2 linked regions of the Homo sapiens genome follow. The protein of the gene in region 1 purifies or fractionates together with the protein of each later gene. This does not show direct contact. Each region holds a gene or a part of one and is shown in the gene's direction. Other genes may lie near its edges. The genes, in order: CYBA and DERL1.

Region 1 (2,950 bases):
CTACTCCATGTATCCTTCCACCTGAGGCTGGGGTGGGCGGGGAACGCCCAGGGCAGAGCTGGGGAGCCACTTCACAGTGAGCTGTTTGCCTCCGCTCCCCACCACCGCAGCCAGGCTGGGACACAGGGTGGGCTGTGCACGGGTTGGGCAGCCCAGGCCCCAGCAGCCAGGCCCCTCGCCAGGACCATGTGGCGATCAGCGGCAGACCCGCCAGTCTAAGTCCTGGTGAGTGGTGGGCAGGGGGTGTCACCAGAGGGCCAGGGCCAGCACTGAGGCCTCCCTGTTGGACTGCTGGGATCCCCTCTGCCCGCTCCTGTCAGTCATCCCCCTTGACCGGCCCCTCTACCTCCTCTGCCCCATCTCAGCCCTGCCGCCCAGCCGGACCTTGCGACAAGGAGCACTGGGCAGGGTGGTGGGAGGGAGGGCGTGGGCAGCCCCGAGTGCCAGACCTGTTGGAACCTCCCGTGGCTGCCTCCTGGCTCTGTGACCTCAGGCAGTGGCTGCCCCCGACCTTTTTTGAGACAGGGTCTCGCTCTGTCCCCCAGGCTGCAGTGCAGTGGTGCAGCTGTGACTCATGGCAGCCTCCACCTGGGCTCAGGCCACCCTCTTACCTCAGCCTCTGGAGTAGCTGGGACCACAGGCACACACCACTGCACCTGGCTTTTAAATTTTTTGTAGAGATGAGGGTCTCACTATGTTGCCCAGGCTGGTCTCAAACTCCTGGGCTCCAGTGATCCTCCCGCCTCAGCCTCCCAAAATGCTGGGATTCCAGGCATGAGCCACCGTGCTCGGGCCCCTCTCTGTGTTGTCTTCAGTAAAGGGAGTTCCCTGTGGCCCCTCAGGCTGAGCTGGGCTGTTCCTTAACCACATGGCTTCAGTGTGGCGGGCGTGTTTGTGTGCCTGCTGGAGTACCCCCGGGGGAAGAGGAAGAAGGGCTCCACCATGGAGCGCTGGTGAGTCTCCTCCTGCTCTGGGGTCTCTCCGGGGGCTGCGGGGCCCAGGCAGGGCTCACAGGGTTGGGTGGAGCTTGGTTTCTCACTTGGAGGCTCCGGAACCAACCCTTTGGTGCTTGTGGGTAAACCAAGGCCGGTGCCTGCCCGGTGTGTTTTGTGGGAGGAAAGAGGCCTGGGTGCCCTGGGGTGGTCAGCAGGGCAGCAAAGGAGTCCCGAGTGGGAGAGGCCCAGCCGCGCCGTCTCGCCTTCCTCCCTCCCCCAGGGGACAGAAGTACATGACCGCCGTGGTGAAGCTGTTCGGGCCCTTTACCAGGAATTACTATGTTCGGGCCGTCCTGCATCTCCTGTGAGTCCCCGTCCCGCACCCCCTCTAGGGCTCAGGAGGGCTTGGAGCCGACCCTCCCCACTGTCCCACCGGCCGGGCTGCCTGGACAGGAGCCACCCCCACTTACCTCAGTGTTTTTCCAAACAAAAATTCGGGTCCCTGGCTCTGGCAGGGCCTGTGTCTGCTGTCTAGTGTGCAGGATTTGTAAGGATCCACTCCAAATCCGAGGAGCTCCGATCCGTCGCCAGGGTCTGGGGTCAGCATGCACTGCTGGGGGGTCTTGCCTGGGCTTCCTGGTAGGGTGGAGGGTTCCGTGCTGTGTGTCTGCTGGTTACTGCCGGCTGAGGCCAGGACACCCACACGTGGCTGCTTCCTCCGAGCAAGTGCACCAGAGCCGCTAGTGTCCACATCAAGGCTGAGAACACCCAGGACCGAAACAAGCCCCGGTCCGCGCACGTCCCCTGGGTCTGCAGTCTGCCTTGTCCTGAGACTTTGTGGCCTTGGCCCCCAGACCTGGGGCTCCGTTCCCCTTTCTGAGTGCCCTTCTGTGTCCCTGCCTCTCACCCGCTGTCCCCCAGGCTCTCGGTGCCCGCCGGCTTCCTGCTGGCCACCATCCTTGGGACCGCCTGCCTGGCCATTGCGAGCGGCATCTACCTACTGGTGAGTGGCGCCCTCTGAGGTCGGCCCCGGCCACCCCCATCCCCAGCCCCTGCCCTGACACCCTCGGACACGCATGGCCCTTGAAGCCGGCTCTGTAGGCTGAGCCAAGGCTGGGAGCAAGTGTGAGCCTGGGCGTGTGCTCACAGCACGGCGGGGACGCAGCGGTTGCTGCTGCCATTTTTGGCGTGTCTAGTGTGTCGGGTCATTTCCTTGCATTTCCTCATTAACCCGCACCACAGCCCTGGGAGGGGTACTGGGGTCCCCACTTTACAGACAAAGATGCGGAGGCTCAGGGAGGTGCTGTGACTGGCCTGGGGTCACGCAGCCGGCCGAAGACCGTGCCTGCGCTTGGGTCCCATTATCAGGCTTTTCTCACCTAAACCCTATTCGCGCTGATTCATGGGCGGTGCCAGGACGCAGACATTTTCTTAAACTGCCGACACCTGCGTTTGGTTTATGACTGCTGCACCCTGTTAGAAGGCTGCCCATCCCATGGGATACAGTGATCTCTCTGAGAGGCCAGGGATGGGTGGGAGGACAGGGCGCAGCCTGGCCAGGCCTTGGGTGAAATGCCCTCTGCCTGCCCTGGGCTCCGGAACAGACGGCTGCAGGCCACCTCTCACTGCGGGGGTCTCTGGGTGGACAGAGCCCTCAGACTTTGCTTATTTAAATCCTTTTGTCCATAGAGCCAAGTCCCTCCTGCCCGCAGAGGCAACTGCCCTCCCCTTGCTGTGCGTCTTCTAGTGTGTGTGCGTGGGAAAGGTGCAGCACTTTCTGTGTACGCCTTCCGCGTATGGAAGTGGAGTTCTGTTTCAAGCCTCACTGACCTGCCACCGGCAGAACTCTCCTTTAGAACCCCTTCCTGTTGCCAAGTGCTCATCTGGGCTGTTGCTTTGTTTTCCGGGGGCCACCCGCATCCCCCCCGTCTCCCTGCTGCCACGCACAGCTAGTGGCTCCTGGAGACCTCGGGAGGAATTCCTTGTGCTAAACCCAGAGAGGAATTGCTGGGTCA
Region 2 (3,818 bases), on another chromosome or scaffold:
GTGCTCATCATCTTTCTTGCTTGGTGACTGATATATACTTAAGTCCGAATCAAGTGATCCTTATTATTTCAGACAAATCCTCACTTTTCATACTTTAAAAAAAAAAACACTAGATTCTGGATGGCAAATTATTTCAGTAGCAGATTGTTTAGAAGATTTTAGCTAAAGGATGGCTGCAACCTACACTCTGAAGTTGTTGGACTAATAACTGAGGAACAATGTCTTATGTCTTCTTTAAGGGTGTATATAGCAGTGAGCACATGGGCTACATGTCCTTGTTAAGTGAGGAACTCTAATTAGGGCCCAGCTTTCCTCCTGAAAAAACTGGGATCATTATGGGCCTGGCCTTGAGGTTGCTGTGGACTTAAAATGAGATACTCCCCCACGAGTCCTCTCAGTAAGTGTGAGGCAGGCAGTCCTCTGTCTGCAAGTCGTGGCTCTTTGTGCTGCAGTTGGCTGCCTCTTAGGCTTTCCAGGGTTGAAAATGGGCCTCTTCACTCCTGGCACTGAACGTAAAGCCAGTTCCTTCTCCTTACTGTTTACATATCAGGTCGAGGAAAAAATGGGATTTAGTTGGATACTTACAATGGGGATTTCCGAAATATGTTACACTGTGTCCTTCTAAAGAGATAAGCTGTCTTCTGGTGTTTTCAGATTATAATTTTAAAGTAACACAAAAATAATATTAAGTCTTTTAGATCAATGAAAGCAAGTATAACTCAAGGGTAGGCTTAATGAACAGGGAAAAGAAGTGAGATATTTTGACAGACACTGATTTCCAAAGAACAGGTGCAAACAGTGACTAAAAATAGTCTTATGTCATCAGCATTAGAGAAAATGTAGTCAGACAAAAACAAGGTTTCTTTTCCAAAACCAGGCCTTGAGTAACTTATAGGAATATGGGGGTAGTTGAAATATGAATTTATAAAAACTGGTTAGCGGGTGTTTCCGAAAAGATTGTGATAATACAATTAACACACCCACACATATTAATTCTTTTTGCATAGTATCTTTTTAATTCACTTTCTTAATTCCAACCTTTTACAAATCCTGTAAGATAAGGAAGGCAGAAGTCATAGGATAATGTCATTGGGTAGATGATGAAGCCAATTTGACGTCCATACTTTTCCAAGGGTCCAGGGCTACCTAGAGGGTTTGCTTCTGGTCTTTACTCCCAGTCCTTTTCTTAAGCACAGAGAATTAATTAGTAGGTTTACTCTGAGTCTATTTCAGGATTACACAAGTGTCTGTAGTAGTGAACACTTACACTAATTGTAATTGTACCTCATAATACTGACGCCATTTGTGAGAGGGATTGTAAAAATAGGGGCTTAGTATCACAAACTCTGGAGTCAGACTGTCTGGGATAAAATTCTAGCTTCACCACTTACTGGCTGATACTTAACCTTTTCTCATCCTGTTTCCTCATCTATGAAATCCGTCTCCTGAATCAGTGCGTGTAAATAAGCTGAGTAGCACATTAATTTATTGATTTCTTTAAAAAAATTAACTATGGAAATTGAGGCTCGGAAGTGGTGACTTATAAGCAAAAACTTAAACCCAGGTCTTCTCAAGTCATCTCCAGTTCCCTTTCCACTAAACTATCCTGTTTCTGTGATAAAGTTGTGAATGAATCAAACCAAATGTTAAACTATTTTATTTTTCTGGTTTAATACACGTTTCTTGGAAAGTCACTTTTTTGGTATGCACATTGCATTTCCCTCTACAAGGAATTAAGCTCTGAGGGTTACATTCCTGTACTTGGAGAATGGAACTGGCCAGTCTGTATGTGGCCAGTCCCCGTGACTGACGTCCTCCATTCCAGCCACACTTGAATTGTTAGCAGTACCCATTCAGTTATTGTGCTCTTGCAATTCTTGGGGCCTTTGTAACAAGTCCACATGTCCCCTCCCTTGTGCCAACCCTTTCTTCCTTTGACAGCCTTCCCCACTACTCTGAGGAATTCAGGGGCCATGTCTTTTGTGCTTGGTACATGCTAGTGTGCAATGAGATAGACACATATCTCTCACACCAAAAGCCAGCATTTTGCTGCCATTTCCAAAAGTTTAGGAAGGCCATCTGCTTCAATCACTATTTAGCATTGTTCTGGTGGGGGTGCCAGCCAGTGAATTAGACAAGAATGAAATAAGATACAAAAGTTTATTTACAGCTAGGGTTGTATGCTTGGAAAGCCCAAGAAGCTCAATTTTCTTTTTTGTTAAGACATAGTTTCGCTCTTGTTGCCCAGGCTGGAGTGCAGTGTTGTGATCTCGGCTCACTGCAACCTCTGCCTCCTGGATTCAAGCGATTCTCCTGCCTCAGCCTCCCGAGTAGCTGGGATTACAGGCATGTGCCACCACGCCCGGCTAATTTTGTGTTTTTAGTAGAGACAAGGTTTCTCCACCTTGGTCAGCCTGGTCTCGAACTCCCGACCTCAGGTGATCTGCCCACCTCGGCCTCCCAAAGTGCTGGGATTACAGGCATGAGCCACTACTCCCGGCCGAAGCTCAATTTTCAATATTGTAGGCAGTAAGATACTCAGCTTTTGTGGTTAAGTATAAAAAGGTAGAAAGAGATAGCTCTATAGACAACTCTAAAAGCTATGAAAAACTTCTTGGCTGGGAATTATATCAATATCACATGGATATAATAAAAGAATGGTTCTAATTCATTTAGAAAAATAAAATATTGAGACTAACCAAGAAAATTGTGACAATTGTTGAAGAAAAAAAGGGGGAGATATTATTTAGCTGTTTAACTTTACCAGCTATTAAAATATGTTATAAAAGGAATAGAAACTAGGCTAGGCCCAGTGGCTCATGCCTATAATTTCAGCACTTTGGGAGGCTGAGGTGGGAGCATCATTTGAGGCTGGTAGTTTGAGAGCAGTCTGGACAACATAGGAAGAGCCCGTCTCAAAAAACAAACAAACAAAATTACCAGGTGTGATGGTACATGCCTGTAGTCCTAGCCACTTGGGAGGCTGAGTGGAGAATTGCTTGAACCCAGAAATTTGAGGTTACAGTGAGCTGTGGTCAAAACACTGCGCTCCAGCCTGAGCAACAGACTGAGACCTTGTCTCAAAAAAAAAAAAAAAAAAGAAAATAGAAATTAAAATAACTTGATATTGGCATAGGAACCAATTCCAAACAGAATGGTGTTAAAATAGACCTACATGTAAAAGAGACTAGAGTATAAACGTTCAATGAAAGTAGTTTTTCAAATAATTGGAAAAAATGTGGGTTACTCTGTAAATGGGGTTGGGAAAACTGGGTGACTATTTAGAAAAACAGTTGGATCTCTTCCTCATTCCTTGGATGCACCTTGAAAGTGCTAAAATAAAACCATGAACACTTACATTCTTGGAGCGAAAAGACTTTCTAAACATGACACATCATGGATACATATGCCTACATTTAATTAAACTTTTGTATGTCAAAATATGGCAAAAACACCATGAAAGTCTAATGACATCAGAAAATGCTTGCAATGATGAGAAAGAGAAATTTCATAATGTATGAGGAAATGCAGCCAGGTGCGATGGCTCATGCCTGTAATCCCAGCACTTTGGGAGGCCAGGACAGGTGGATTGCTTGAGCTCAGGAATTTGAGACCAGCCTGGGCAACATCAGGAGACCCTGTATCTACAAAAAATATAAAAATTAGCCAGGTGTGGTGGTGCATGCTGGTAGTCCCAGCTACTTGGGAGGCTGAGGTGGGAGAATCACCTGAGTCCAGGAGGTGGAGGTTGTAGTGAGCTAGGATCATGCCACTGCACTCCAGCCTGGGCATCAGAGCAAGATCCTATCTCGGGGGGG

Evidence for each region.
Region 2: the proteins of CYBA (region 1) and DERL1 purify together in Homo sapiens (affinity purification with western blotting; one study listed by BioGRID). This does not show direct contact.

Annotation. Positions count from the first base shown.
Region 1 is NC_000016.10:88,645,104-88,648,053, reverse strand, and holds part of CYBA (cytochrome b-245 light chain), read left to right. Parts: coding exon 1-9; intron 10-878; coding exon 879-953; intron 954-1,215; coding exon 1,216-1,299; intron 1,300-1,856; coding exon 1,857-1,938; intron 1,939-2,624; coding exon of another isoform or gene 2,625-2,888; exon of another isoform or gene 2,889-2,950. UniProt on the Homo sapiens protein: Subunit of NADPH oxidase complexes that is required for the NADPH oxidase activity that generates, in various cell types, superoxide from molecular oxygen utilizing NADPH as an electron donor.
Region 2 is NC_000008.11:123,032,146-123,035,963, reverse strand, and holds part of DERL1 (derlin-1), read left to right. Parts: intron 1-3,818. UniProt on the Homo sapiens protein: Functional component of endoplasmic reticulum-associated degradation (ERAD) for misfolded lumenal proteins. Forms homotetramers which encircle a large channel traversing the endoplasmic reticulum (ER) membrane.